Regions from separate parts of the Homo sapiens genome. Here all the other regions are reported to be linked to region 1. Evidence: microRNA targets listed by miRTarBase, many of them from high-throughput screens and not tested one by one. Region 1 holds a microRNA gene; each other region holds the end of a gene's coding sequence.
The links. Region 1 holds the annotated microRNA hsa-miR-510-3p (AUUGAAACCUCUAAGAGUGGA, at 1,165-1,185, shown strand). A microRNA usually pairs through its seed, bases 2 to 8, with sites in the 3' UTR of a target mRNA and lowers its output. Matches are read on the target gene's strand: a 7mer-m8 pairs with bases 2 to 8, a 7mer-A1 pairs with bases 2 to 7 and ends in A, and an 8mer does both.

Region 1 (3,160 bases):
TGTTCTGGTTTGCCTCACCCAAAGTGGAAGCTCCCCCTGATGATTAAGCTGAGATGAGGAGTATTACGTACTCAATTATCTCCGCCGGCTGCACCTGGTATAGAGCCTAAACCCTGTGATGAAGAATGGCTATAGTAGCAGGCCCCTGACCTCTAACCTCACATGCCTAGTATTTAGCCTCTGAAACACTAAACTGGGTTTGTGGAGTGGATGAGAAATTCTGGAGGCTTCTTAAACCCACAAGTATATTGTTGCTCTTGATTAGGAGATAGGGGAACAGGTAATTTTGTAAGCCACAGTCACTTTAAATTCTCAGTTCTCAGTCTCTGAAATCCAGTCACCAAAATTGTGTCCATATTTTTGTGTGTGCTAATTTTAGTTTTGCAGGGAAACACAGTCACCTAGTAGCATGTGTCTCAGATTGGAAAAATGCAAACACATGCTAAAAAGAACCTTGCTCCCAGAAAAGACGAAGAAAACCCAGAAACTGAAAAATCTCTAAGAGTGTCTGGGTGCCTAGCACAATTTCTGTTTTGTAGATCACTCCTGGTAAGTAAAATGGGATTTTTTTTTTCACTTCAAAATTTGATGAGGATAAAAGAAATTCTACTCTCTCCATCTTACCACTCACTGATTATTCTCTCTTCTTTGCTTCCAGGATCCTGTGTGATGTCCTTGCTTATTCTGTAGTGAGGAGTTGTAGTAAGGAACTCAGGTAGAAGAACTCAGATCTTTGGATGATAGGCACAGATTGGTGAGATAGAGTGTAGTGTCTGGGTAGCTACTGAATCTGGGGAATGCAATCTACTCATTAATACTTTATATAAAACAATGGGAAAAGAAATAGAATAAGGCATCGAATGAGATTTTTCCCGTTAGCAGGAGAGCCTAGCAGGAAGGTTCTTAGTCCTGAAAACTGCCATGTGAAAACTCCAAACCATGAGTGGACAACACTCAAGGGGGAATGAGTGAATAAAAAATGATGTAGGTTCTTCAGGAATCATTTACATAAATGCCAACGGCCACTTACAGACTGAAAACATTTGAGAGGTTGTTTGAAAAGTGTGTGATTAAGTATTTAGGCTGTGCTCCCATTTTCAGGAATGCTGTGTATGTGTGTGGTGTCCTACTCAGGAGAGTGGCAATCACATGTAATTAGGTGTGATTGAAACCTCTAAGAGTGGAGTAACACATGACATGTACTACATATGCAATGATATTGCAGATATTTAGTTGCATGCAGTGGTATGCTTTTCTTAGCACATAGATAGTCCATCTGGTACCCTCCTCAATACTAAACTAGCTGGGGAGTTTCTAGATAAACTTCTGAAGACAAGACATAGGAAATAAAGGTTTTGGGAAAAAGTGTTTCACTGATTTCTTAGGGGCTTCATATCCTTCTTTACAAACTTGCAAGACTAAAATGGGAAAAAAGCCTTTTAGTATGGTCATGGTGTTCCTATCTGCCTGTGAATTTTTTTTTTTTTTGATAACCCTTACCTGCGGGGTCCATCCCACAGACCCTGGCCAAGCAACGGATGAAAGGAGTACTCAGCCACAGGCATGCAGTGTAAGAGCAGCTACAGGAATGCCCAGCACTAATGGCTGAAGAGTGAGCAGTCTCGAACAGCTGGAGCTGCTTGCTTTTATTCAGTACAGACAAAATAATGAAAGCCTGGAGCCAACACAATCTGTGGGTAATTAACATTATTATTCCCCCTTTCAGGGAGCAGTCTCCTGCCCTGATGATCAAAGTCGGTTTCCGGACAATGTAAGTAAACAAGCCTGTTTATGCCAAATTCCCCTATACTTCCTTACCTACCCCTTGCCCTCTGCCTCAGGGTAAGAGAACAGCTGCCTTCAGCTTATTCATCCCTGAAGCTATCCAGAGCCTTCCCGCCTTTCAGAAGGTCTGTTCCTTTCCCTATACCTTCTCCTACCACTCTGACCGATCTCCCGCGTCTCCCCCTTTTCTGTTTTTAGCATCGGGTTTTGTTGATTGAATAGTACAGATGTGTGCAGTGACAGATTTGACAGGCGCAGCGGTTACAGCTCGTGTTCCGGCTTTGCATCCTAGAATTAGTAAATAACATAAGTCAAACATTAGTATAGTCACTATTATTCTTTTCCAATCAAGGAGAGATATGTAGTGTTACTTGGCACCTCAGTTCAATGTGTGCCATTATTAAGGAACCCCACTGGGGGCATGTCAACCCCTCCCAGCTAAGCAGTTACATTATTAGAGGATGGGAAGGGGGTGTCTGCCAAGGTAACAGGTTGGAAGAAAGGCAGATCTTAGAAGATGGGCCCAATAGAATGTAGCAGGTATGAGTTGCAGGCAAAGTGAGAGAATAAGAAAGGTGAATACCCTATGAGAGTTGCAAGGTACAATAGAGAGCATAGCAAGGAACAGATTATCTGGAGTGATGGTGTCTGTGTCCAGAGAAGGATTCACTCGGCCTCCTGAGTTGTCTTCTTCAGCTTCCCCCAGGTAATGTCTGGGGCCTGTGTCATCGGAGGAAGCCACATCGTCTGGGGCTGCGGGTCCTGCAGCGTCGTTTCCTTTATTTTTGATACCAGCTTGGGTCTTAGCCACGCCATGGTATGGTTTGATGTGTCTGTCACACTGGAATACAAAGAGGACCTGAGGGCGTGTGAACACAAGCATATTCTCTTCCCCAGGTCAGCAAATCATTTGGACCACACCATAGATTACTATTAACTTCTTTCCATAAAACCATGGGTTTTATGTCTTGAGGGGCTTTTGCAAAATGCTTTTCTATGGCTGATTGAAATTTATCTAAATTAAAAAAATTAAGGGTAAATAAGGCTTATGCTAGTAGTGTTGCAGCATCCTTACTCATATTCCCCCTTGTTTTCTGAGCATATTTTTAAGGGTGGAATGGGCATGTTCTACTATGACTTGTCCTTGGGATTTGTACGGGATGCCTGTGGATGTCACATATTGGACATCCATGTGTGACAAAATTGGTGAAATTGTGAGCTGGTGTAAGCTGGACCATTAGTAGTTTTAATTTTTGTGGGCCGCCCCATAAACGCAAAACTTAAGAGAATATGTTTAATGACATACTGGGCAAACTCTCCGGGAAGAGCATGAGTGCTAATTAGGTGGGAATTGGTATCAATGGATATATGTACA
Region 2 (3,160 bases), not on the chromosome of region 1:
CTTATTTTTATCCTTCAGATATAAAGAGAATATTATGAAATTATCAAGAATTCAACATGATCAACCAGTAAAGCCCCTGGATCGAGCAGTCTTCTGGATTGAATTTGTCATGCCCCACAAAGGAGCCAAACACCTTCGAGTTGCAGCCCATGACCTCACCTGGTTCCAGTACCACTCTTTGGATGTGATTGGGTTTCTGCTGGCCTGTGTGGCAACTGTGATATTTATCATCACAAAGTTTTGTCTGTTTTGTTTCTGGAAGTTTGCTAGAAAAGGGAAGAAGGGAAAAAGAGATTAGTTATGTCTGACATTTGAAGCTGGAAAACCAGATAGATAGGACAACTTCAGTTTATTCCAGCAAGAAAGAAAAGATTGTTATGCAAGATTTCTTTCTTCCTGTGACAAAAAAAAAAAAAAAAAAAAAATTTTCAAATCTACCTTGTCAAGTAAAAATTTGTTTTTCAGAGATTTACCACCCAGGTAATGGTTAGAAATATTTTGTGGCAATGAAGAAAATACTAGGAAAATTAAAAAATAATATAAAGCCATTTGAGCTCATATTGAAATTTGTTGCACTTATATTGAGATTTGTTGTTTGAATTCACAAGTTACATGAAAAAATTTACTCAGCTTAACTATATTTCACACATTTTACATAAACACAAGAACATTAAGAAGTCTACTGACAGTATCAGTAGTCACATCCTCAGAATAATTTGGCTTCATTTTGAACAGGATTCTGTTGTTTTAACTGTTGCTAAAGAAACTATTACATAGTTAAATTGTATATAAAGTCTCTCTCTTCCTTTTGATATTTTGAGATAAGTAGTATTCCTTTACTTTTACACTGCATGCAGCTTCATTGTCACATTTTTTGCTAAAATTGATGGCCAAATGTTTACTGTTTTAAGAGCTCATGTCATTTCTCAGTGGAAATTATGTGGAATTAGAAATATAGCCACTCTTACCTGCTTCCTACTGTAAAATTGAACTGTTTTGCCACATCTTTGGTTTCATGAGCAAATTCTATTTTTTCCAGATATGTAAAAATATTTGTCTGGTTGATTTTATTCTGATATTTTTAATTACTTCAATAGTTATTTGGGAACAGGTGGTGTTTGATTAGATGCGTACGTTTTTTAGTGGTAATTTCTGAGGTTTTGTTGCACATATCATGTGAGAAGTGTACCTTGCACTGAATGTATAGTCTTGTATCTCTCACCCCCTCCCGGCCTCCCATCTGAATCCTTAGATCCCATTACATCATCCTTATGCCTTTGCATCCTAATAGCTTAGATCTGACTTAGAAGTGACAATTGATGATGTTCAGTTTTCTATTCCTGAATTTCTTCACTTAGAATAATGCTCTCCCACTTCATGCAAGTTGCTGTTAATGCCATTAGTTTGTTTCTTTTTACAGCTTAGTAGTATTCCATGGTGTATATATATACGTAGTATGTATATGCATGTGTATATATATATGTGTGTGTGTGTGTGTGTGTGTATCAGGGGAACCCATGTTCAATATTTCAATGTAGGTTCTTTCCATTTTCCATAAGTGTTGGCCAGCTGAGAAATAGAGAAAGAGTATAAAGAGAGGAATTTTACAGCTGGGCTACCGGGGGTGACATCACCTATTGTTAGGACCGTGATGCCCAGCATAGCCTCAAACTAGCAAGTTTTCTATTAAGGGTTTCAAAAGGTGGGGTGAGGGGGTGTAAGAACAGGGAGTAGGTACAAAGATCACATGCTTCAAAGGGCAAAAGGCAGAACAAAGATCACATGCTTCTGAGGGAACAGGACAAAAGGCAAAGCAGAACTACTGATAAGGGTCTATATTCAGTGGTGCATGTATTGATAAACATCTTAAACAACAGAAAACAGGGTTCGAGAGCAGAGAACTGGTCTGACCACAAATTTACCAGGGTGGAGATTTTCCCCACCCTAATAAGCCTGAGGGTACTGCAGGAGACCAGGGCATACCTCAGTCCTTATCTCAACCACATAAGACAGACATTCCCAGAGTGGCTGGTTTTAGACCTCCCCCCAGGAATGCATTCCTTTCCCAGAGTACTAATATTAATATTTCTTGCTAGGCTAAGAATTTAGCGATATCTTCCCTACTTGCAAGTCCATTTATAGGCTCTCTGAAAGCAGGAAAATACGGCTGTTTTTGTGTGATCCCACAGGGAGTCAGACCTTACGGTTGTTTTCCCTTGTTCCCTCAAAATTGCTGTTATTCTGTTCTTTTTCAAGGTGCACTGATTTCATATTGTTCAAACACACATGTTTTACAAGCAATTTGTACAGTTAACACAATTATCACAGTGATCCTGAGGTGACATACATCCTCAGGTTATGAAGATAACAGGATTAAGAGATTAAAGTAAGACAGGCATAAGAAATTAGAAAAGTATTATTTGGGAACTGACAAAGGTCCATATTAAAATGAAATCTTCACAATTTATGTTCCTCTGCCACAGCTCCAGCCAGTCCCTCCATTCAGGGTCCCTGACTTCCCACAACATCCCTCCCTTTCTTTTTATATAAATGTGCCATGGTGCAAAGTCTTGTTTGTTCTCTAGGTTTTGACACGGGAATCTTTGACTGGTCCAGCACACTAAAAACAAGTCGATTAAACAGAGAAATATTATTCCAAAATTTACTACCGTGGAGCCCCCAGTAGACTTAATCCAAGTCGTGGGGTTTAGTCCAGAAATACTTTCTGCCACCTGATCTAACGCCTCAGCTCCAGACACAATGGGTAAATGAGCTTGAGAGGCTTCAGAAATTTGTTTCTTTAATTTAGTTATGTCCAAGAATAAATTATCTTCCCTACCCAGAAGGTGTCCTTTGACCATTTTCCATGAATGATCAGTCTCATTGTAGGAATATGGTGTGATACAGAAATCAGAAGTATTCAAATCACACTGCATTTGCATGTGATGTTCGAGACTCATCAGCTGATTTCCAAGCCAAATAACAGACTGTCTTAAATCATTAATTTGATTAGCTAATTTTTGATCAATGTCTTGTTGAGAATTCCACATTTGGGTGGAATTGACTTGCTAATCATTGACAAAATGAGCTGTTTGAATAGATTGGTATAATGCCACTCCAGCAGTGGTTGCCAGTGCAGTGACTCTGATTAGGCCCATGA
Region 3 (3,160 bases), not on the chromosome of region 1:
ATTTCTTCCTTTCCTTGTAAAGAAGGAACAGAATGTGGGAAACCTGTGGAATTACAATATATTTAGATGAGGCTTGGGATTTTTTACTTTTAATTTTTTAGTTATTAACATTAATGGTTTGTAATATTTGAGTAAATAACAAAGTACTGAAACTTGAAAAGGATAAACTTAATTTTTATTGTATTTCATTTTAGGAAAATGAAAAAGACTTGGAAGAAGCTGAGGAATATAAAGAAGCACGTTTAGTACTGGATTCAGTGAAGTTAGAAGCCTGAAACTTTTCTCGTATGGGGTGGTTTTTGCATTAAATCCTGGGGTCCATTTTACAATCCATTATTTTTGACCACTGCTATGTGTTCAAGTAGTATGAGAATGTGATTGTTTTTATCTGGTTACATATATATTTCTTTGTCTAATTTAATATGTCAAATAAATGAGTTCATCTAATAAAATTGTTTATTTTATACTTTACAAAATTTTTAAATTAACCTTTTATCATTAAACCACATAGACTTTATGACAGAGAACTATAATCTGTTAGGTTCTATTCGAAGTCTACATATTTTGCTTCACAAGCATGGATTGAGTTTTAAAAAATAGAATACCATTTTTTCAAATAACAATCCAAATTTTAGTTGGGTGTAGTGGTACATATCTGTATTCCCAACTACTGGGGAGGCTGAGGTGGGAGGATTGCTTGAGCCCAGTAGTATGAGGATGCAGTAAGGTATGATTATGCCAATGTACTCCAGCCTACGGAACATAGCAAGACCCTATCTCTAAAAGATTGAATTGTAAGCAGTTTATTTGGAATAGAATACAACTGATATAAAAGGAAGAACTCTCTTTGGGGAAGGTCTCACATAATAAGGCCTTCACAGTGAAACTCTAACATTTCCATGACTATAAATGAATGAGAAACATTTAAATCTTTTTCGAGGACAGATTCACACAGAAAACACCCCCAACCATTTAGATCTTCAAATAAGATTCTTATGAACAATGAAGAGTTGAATGGTATTTTGAAACAATAATGGCCATTGCCAGTGAAGTGCTGGCAAATATTTAAAGACTCTTCAGAATAGGAGGGGAACCTCTGATTGGTAGCTTTTGCTGATTTCTGTGGTATAAATACTCCTACCTTTGACCAATTTCAAACTACTAATATGACATCACTGAACACAGAGTTATGAAAATTTGGGCCAGCTCCACCATAATTTGGCTGTAGCCAATCTTGATTATCTAGATTGACTCGGGGGGGAAAAGTATCATTTTGTCAGAAAGCATTTTTCCAGTACAATTGTGACCCTGTTACCCAATCACTTGAGTTTATTTTCCAAAAATACAAGACAACTCATTTAGATTTTTTATATTTCCAGAAAATGTGTGTGAGCCTTATATCACCAGCCTAATGGGCATTGGTGTAAGGAACCAAATATCTATATATAGCATTTAAATTTGAAAAGTCAAAATTGGAAAAAAAAAACTTGAATTTTTGCTGCATTAAATACTTACAGTGTTATTATGGTTGGTATGATTTTGGAAGTTGTAGATAATCACTAGAAATCATAACATTTATTGAATCTGTCCAAAGATCAGAAAAGAGAAAAATAATTATTTTTTCCTAAGTTATTCTTAAAGGTTCTGTTGTTATAAAGCACAGATTATATCACTTATAAAATAAACTTAAGCCAGGCGCAGTGCTCACGCCTGTAATCTCAGCACTTTGGGAGGCCGAGGCAAGTGGATCACCTGAGGTCAGGAGTTTGAGACCAGCCTGACCAACATGGTGAAACCCTGTCTCTACTAAAAAATACAAAAATTTGCCGGCTTGGTGGCAGGCACCTGTAATCCCAGCTACTTGGGAGGCTGAGGCAGGAGAATTGCTTGAACCCAGGAGGCAGAGGTTGCAGTGAGCCAAGATCATGCCATTGCACTCCAGCTTGGGTGACAGAGCAAGACTCTATCTCAAAATAAAATAAAATAAAATAAAAATAACCTTATTACACATGCCAAAAATTACTTCTTCAGAGAATAACATATATCAGAAGCATTTCTAAATTGGAATGTCATCCCAAAACATATTACATGCCATTTTAAAAGTATTTGAGGTGGGAAAAGGAAAAGTTGAGAAAATAAAAAGTAATTATAGTGTAAAACTTGATATTAAGGTTTAGTGTTAGAGGTTTGAACACCAAGAGAATTAGATTATTTTGTGGTTGCTATCAAGTACCAGAGCAATAGATTGGCTTGGGAAGGGGTGGGTGGGTGGGGGCGGGTGCGGGGGAAGTGCCAATTAGTTTTCCAAGTAGTATTTCATTTACAGAAACTATTTTGGTATTTTTTTTAATGTATAACCTCTCTCTCTGTGTCTCTATATATAAATATATATATATAGCAAATGGTTTCTTGACCAATTAAAGCTTAAAGAGAACAGAACACAAATATATATAGATACAGATTCATATGTATAAGTCTTGCAGCAAGGACTCAAATCATGATTACTAAAAAAATTACTTTGTTGCCAAAAAGCCTAGAAAAGAAGAAATCAATAATAAGGTAAATGAAAGAATGCATATCTTTGTTGGCCAGGCGTGGTGGCTCACACCTGTAATCCTAGCACTTTGGGAGGCCAAGGCGGGTGGATCACCTGAGGTCAGGAGGATCACCAGCTGGCCAACATGGTGAAACCCTGTGTCTCCTAAAAATACAAAAATTAGCTGGGCATGGAGGCACATGCGTGTAATCCCAGCTACCCGGAGGCTGAGGCAGGAGAATCGCTGGAATCTGGGAGCAGAGGCTGCAGTGAGCCGAGATTGCACCACTGCACTGCCACCTGGGTGACAGAGCAAGATTTTGTCTCAAAAAAAAAAGAAAAAGAAATATATCTTTAGAGAATTCCTGTCTCAACTATAGATTTTATACTGGATCACTCTCCAAGTATTAATGAGAAGCACAAGAGGCTTAACATCCTGTGAAGACTATATTTCTGGGAATTTTTCATACATTCCACTTAGGTTTTCATGGCCATCAATAAGCATATTAAAATATGAGCAGCTGTAATCAATTCAGCATCTTGTTTTTAAGTTTTTATTTAAACCCTTATATCTGTGTAATAACAGGTAGAAATTGCCAAGTAATTTTGCCTCTTTTTCTTCCT
Region 4 (3,160 bases), not on the chromosome of region 1:
GCTGGTCTGGCCAGGCTCTTATACAGAGGGGACACAGCTTTAGTTTTACCTGATCTGCTGGGGCCCAGACAGGTTAGAACGAAGGCCCGTGAACTCTATGTCCAGACCTGCCAGGAAGGCAAAAAATAGCAGTCCTCGGGTGCAGAACATCGCCAGCACTCCTCACACTGTAGATCTGCAGGCGGCCAAGGCACCCGCGCTCACCTCTGCGCTCAAGAAGCCAAGTGAGGTCAGGAAGGGAAAATGGAGGAACCAAGGCAAGGAGCAGCCAGGCACCTGGGCGCACGGGGCTCTGGCCAACAAGGGACGTGGGGCTCGGAGTGTACTTGCTGCTCAAAGTCCCACCGCCCCGGGGCTGGAGAAGGAAGCCCCCCTGTCCTTCCCGAGGCCCTCTCTGAGGCCCTGTGGCCTGGCAACCGTCCCGCCACCCCCTCCTCAAGCTCGCCCGGGGCAAGGGGCTCTGTCCGGCACAGCCGCGAATCCCAGGCTCTTCACCCACGAAGTCGGCCTCCTGGACGAGCTCCTGCAGCAGAGGGAGGCTCTCCTCGAACTCGTCGGCGCCCACGTCCATGGCCGTGCAGCTCCGCGGAGTCGCCCAGCGCTATCACGTGCTGCCCACGTGCTGCCCACGCGCTTCCGTCGCGCCGCCGGGTCTTAAAGGGCGCACACATGGAAACCAGGCAGCTGCCTCCGCCCCACGTGCCCAGCTTCCCCGTGTGCTGCTGGCGTCGCCCACACCTGCCTGCGGGTGTTTTAATTGTACGATTTGCTACAGAGGTTTGATTGCAATTGCAATCAAAGCCTGTTTACCTGGCTCCTCAGCAATTTCTTTGCAGCCCTTAACGTGAGAATGTCATTTACATGGACTTAGAATGTTAAGAGGCGTGGCAGGAGACGAAGACAGAGTCCAGAAAGGGTGAAATCAGAAAAGCGGAGCAGGAACAACACCGGACGCAACTGCAATAAGCAGATCCTTTGCTGCGGCTCACGGTCTTCTAAATCACCTCTTCCCAACTTCTCCATCACTGCCAGTATGTCTGTCCCCATTCCCTCTCCCACGCCCCTGGACATCTTTTTCCTCATTCTGCTGTCCACCTTACCACTGTCTTCACACCTGCAATCAAACTTTGCAAAGCCTCAAGAACTGCCCATTAAATTGAAGGAATCCTTGGTCCCCAGGGATTATCTCGTGCACTCACTCCTTGCGGAAATCCCTACCTACATCATCACATACATGTGAGCTTAATTTTTACTTTTGTTACTGTTTCCAGTGCAACTAGTCCATGGTCTTCCTTACAGTGTCCTCCCTTGAATTCTAGGCTTCTACTTGAACAGCGTTTTGGAACTATGGTCCTCAAAGTGAGGTGCTCAAATCAATCTTTAAGGTTAGCGGAGAAAACATTACCGTTATACTTTATTTTTTCCTTTTGAGACAGTCTCACTCTGTCACCCAGGCTGGAGTGCAGTGGTGCCATCTCGGCTCTCTGCAATCTCCACCTCCTGAGTTCAAGCGATTCTCCCGCCTCAGCCTCTGAACAGCTGGGATTACAGGCATGCACCACCACGCCCAACTCATTTTTGTTTTTAGTAGAGATAGGGTTAAACCGTATTGGCCAGGCTGGTCTCGAATTCCTGGCCTCAAGTGATCCACCTGCTTCAGCCTCCTAAAGTGGTGGGATTAGAGGTGTGAGGCACTGCATCCGATCTTCAATTATACTTTTAAATGCCTCTCCGGGACATTAATTAAGCAAAAGGGGACTATTAAGCCATTTGATTCTGAAGACCTCTCAGAACAAATCATACTTCATACAGATGTGTTCCATTTAAAATAACACATTGAATACTCAAATTGGCAGAAGTAACATATTTCACTTCTAAACAAACATTTAATTGGGGTATACATTAAAAAAACTGGAAAACAATGCTCTAGAAGCCACCTTAACTGCCTACAGGTTTTTTCTCACATTTATCAAATAGCCAAAAATTAACACCTTAATCAGCTCCTTTCAGAGAACTGCCATGATTCCCATCTACCCAAGCTCAAATTTTAGATTAACTTGCATGCATTTCAAGTTTCATCTCCTATCTAATAAAATGTTCACTTCATGGCAAATTGAGCGCCCACTAACCCCAACCATTTCCACCTCTGCTTTCAGCTCCTGATGCCACCTCCTTCCTCTTTCAAATTTGTTTCTCTTACTGTTGGGAACCAAGAGTCCAAGTGAGGTTGGCATTTGGTCCTTTCATTTTCACATACTGACTGTTCTATAGTATTAGATTGATACTGACATTTCCTATTTTAAAAAACAACCCACACTCCGAGCAGCAAACAACTGTCATTCACTGAGATCACTCGCCATGAACTAGACACAGTAATAAGTGCTTTACATCAACCTCATATGTGCTCCACTGCCACAGTGAGCTCAGACAATGTCATATAACCAGAAAATAAGAGTTCATAATATGCCTTTATTTTGTAATTTATAAACAACTTCTGACTTGCCCTTTGAAAGTTAATTATAATTGATGACTGCTTTTCTTAGATGCTTCTGAAGCCCAAGAGAGGGGCAGAACGTAGTTCTTGATTTAAAAAAACAGAAAGGGGAGGAGGATGACCTTAACTACAAATAATATTCCACTGCAACATTATTGCTGTAAAACTTCCAAGCTGGCTGTTCTTCCAGATGCTCTCTTTTGATGGCTGTAGTGGCTGACAGATTTATATTTACATGTTCAAAACAATTAATGCTTCCATTTATTCATAGATTCTCTGAGGTTCCCGTAGAACCACACCACCTTCTGTCATGGCACTTTGTAGTCGTTTCATCTGGTTTTGAAAATCAGAAAAAAAAGGAAAAGATTAAGTCAGCAGCACGAGTAGGCTGAAAATACTTTCACCTTCCAAAAGACAGAAATAAATTGATTTGTTCTTGCTAACTTCCCAGCCTACAACGGTTTTTCAGAAAGTGATCTTAATAATGATGTAAGTAAAAAGGAAATGTAGAGATGTCAAGGTTCAGCAGCATTTCAAAATATTATATGGACAAGATGTCAATATATGAACAGGAAATACAGTGGCTGACATCATGGACTACAGAATCAGTCACCCTGGGTTTGAAATCCACCATACACTGACTCTGGGCAAGTAAGCCTCAGTTTA

Region 2: the mRNA of UGT2B11 is a reported target of hsa-miR-510-3p. Seed matches in the 3' UTR shown: 7mer-A1 at 427-433.
Region 3: miRTarBase lists TBCA as a target of hsa-miR-510-3p. The part of its 3' UTR that is shown has no 7-base or 8-base seed match.
Region 4: miRTarBase lists MRPL18 as a target of hsa-miR-510-3p. Seed matches in the 3' UTR shown: 7mer-A1 at 2,506-2,512.

The regions. Positions count from the first base shown.
Region 1 is chrX:147,270,367-147,273,526 of GRCh38, reverse strand. MIR510 (microRNA 510) reads left to right here and starts at 1,119; the gene lies at 1,119-1,192. It overlaps LOC105373347 (periphilin-1), which reads right to left. Exons shown (of 4, transcript XR_005647084.2): 4 at 1,632-2,644.
Region 2 is chr4:69,197,578-69,200,737 of GRCh38, reverse strand. It overlaps UGT2B11 (UDP glucuronosyltransferase family 2 member B11), which reads left to right. Exons shown (of 6, transcript NM_001073.3): 6 at 19-787. The coding sequence ends at 298. LOC105377267 (a long non-coding RNA gene) reads right to left here. Exons shown (of 6, transcript NR_136191.1): 3 at 160-266. Among named protein-coding and RNA genes, the nearest start is that of UGT2B11, 16 kb to the left of the region's middle.
Region 3 is chr5:77,688,533-77,691,692 of GRCh38, reverse strand. TBCA (tubulin folding cofactor A) reads left to right here. Exons shown (of 4, transcript NM_004607.3): 4 at 195-527. The coding sequence ends at 275. Among named protein-coding and RNA genes, the nearest start is that of OTP, 51 kb to the right of the region's middle.
Region 4 is chr6:159,797,719-159,800,878 of GRCh38, reverse strand. MRPL18 (mitochondrial ribosomal protein L18) reads right to left here. Exons shown (of 4, transcript NM_014161.5): 4 at 2,450-2,827. The coding sequence ends at 2,756. PNLDC1 (PARN like ribonuclease domain containing exonuclease 1) reads right to left here and starts at 603. Exons shown (of 19, transcript NM_001271862.2): 1 at 496-603; 2 at 50-107. The coding sequence starts at 571.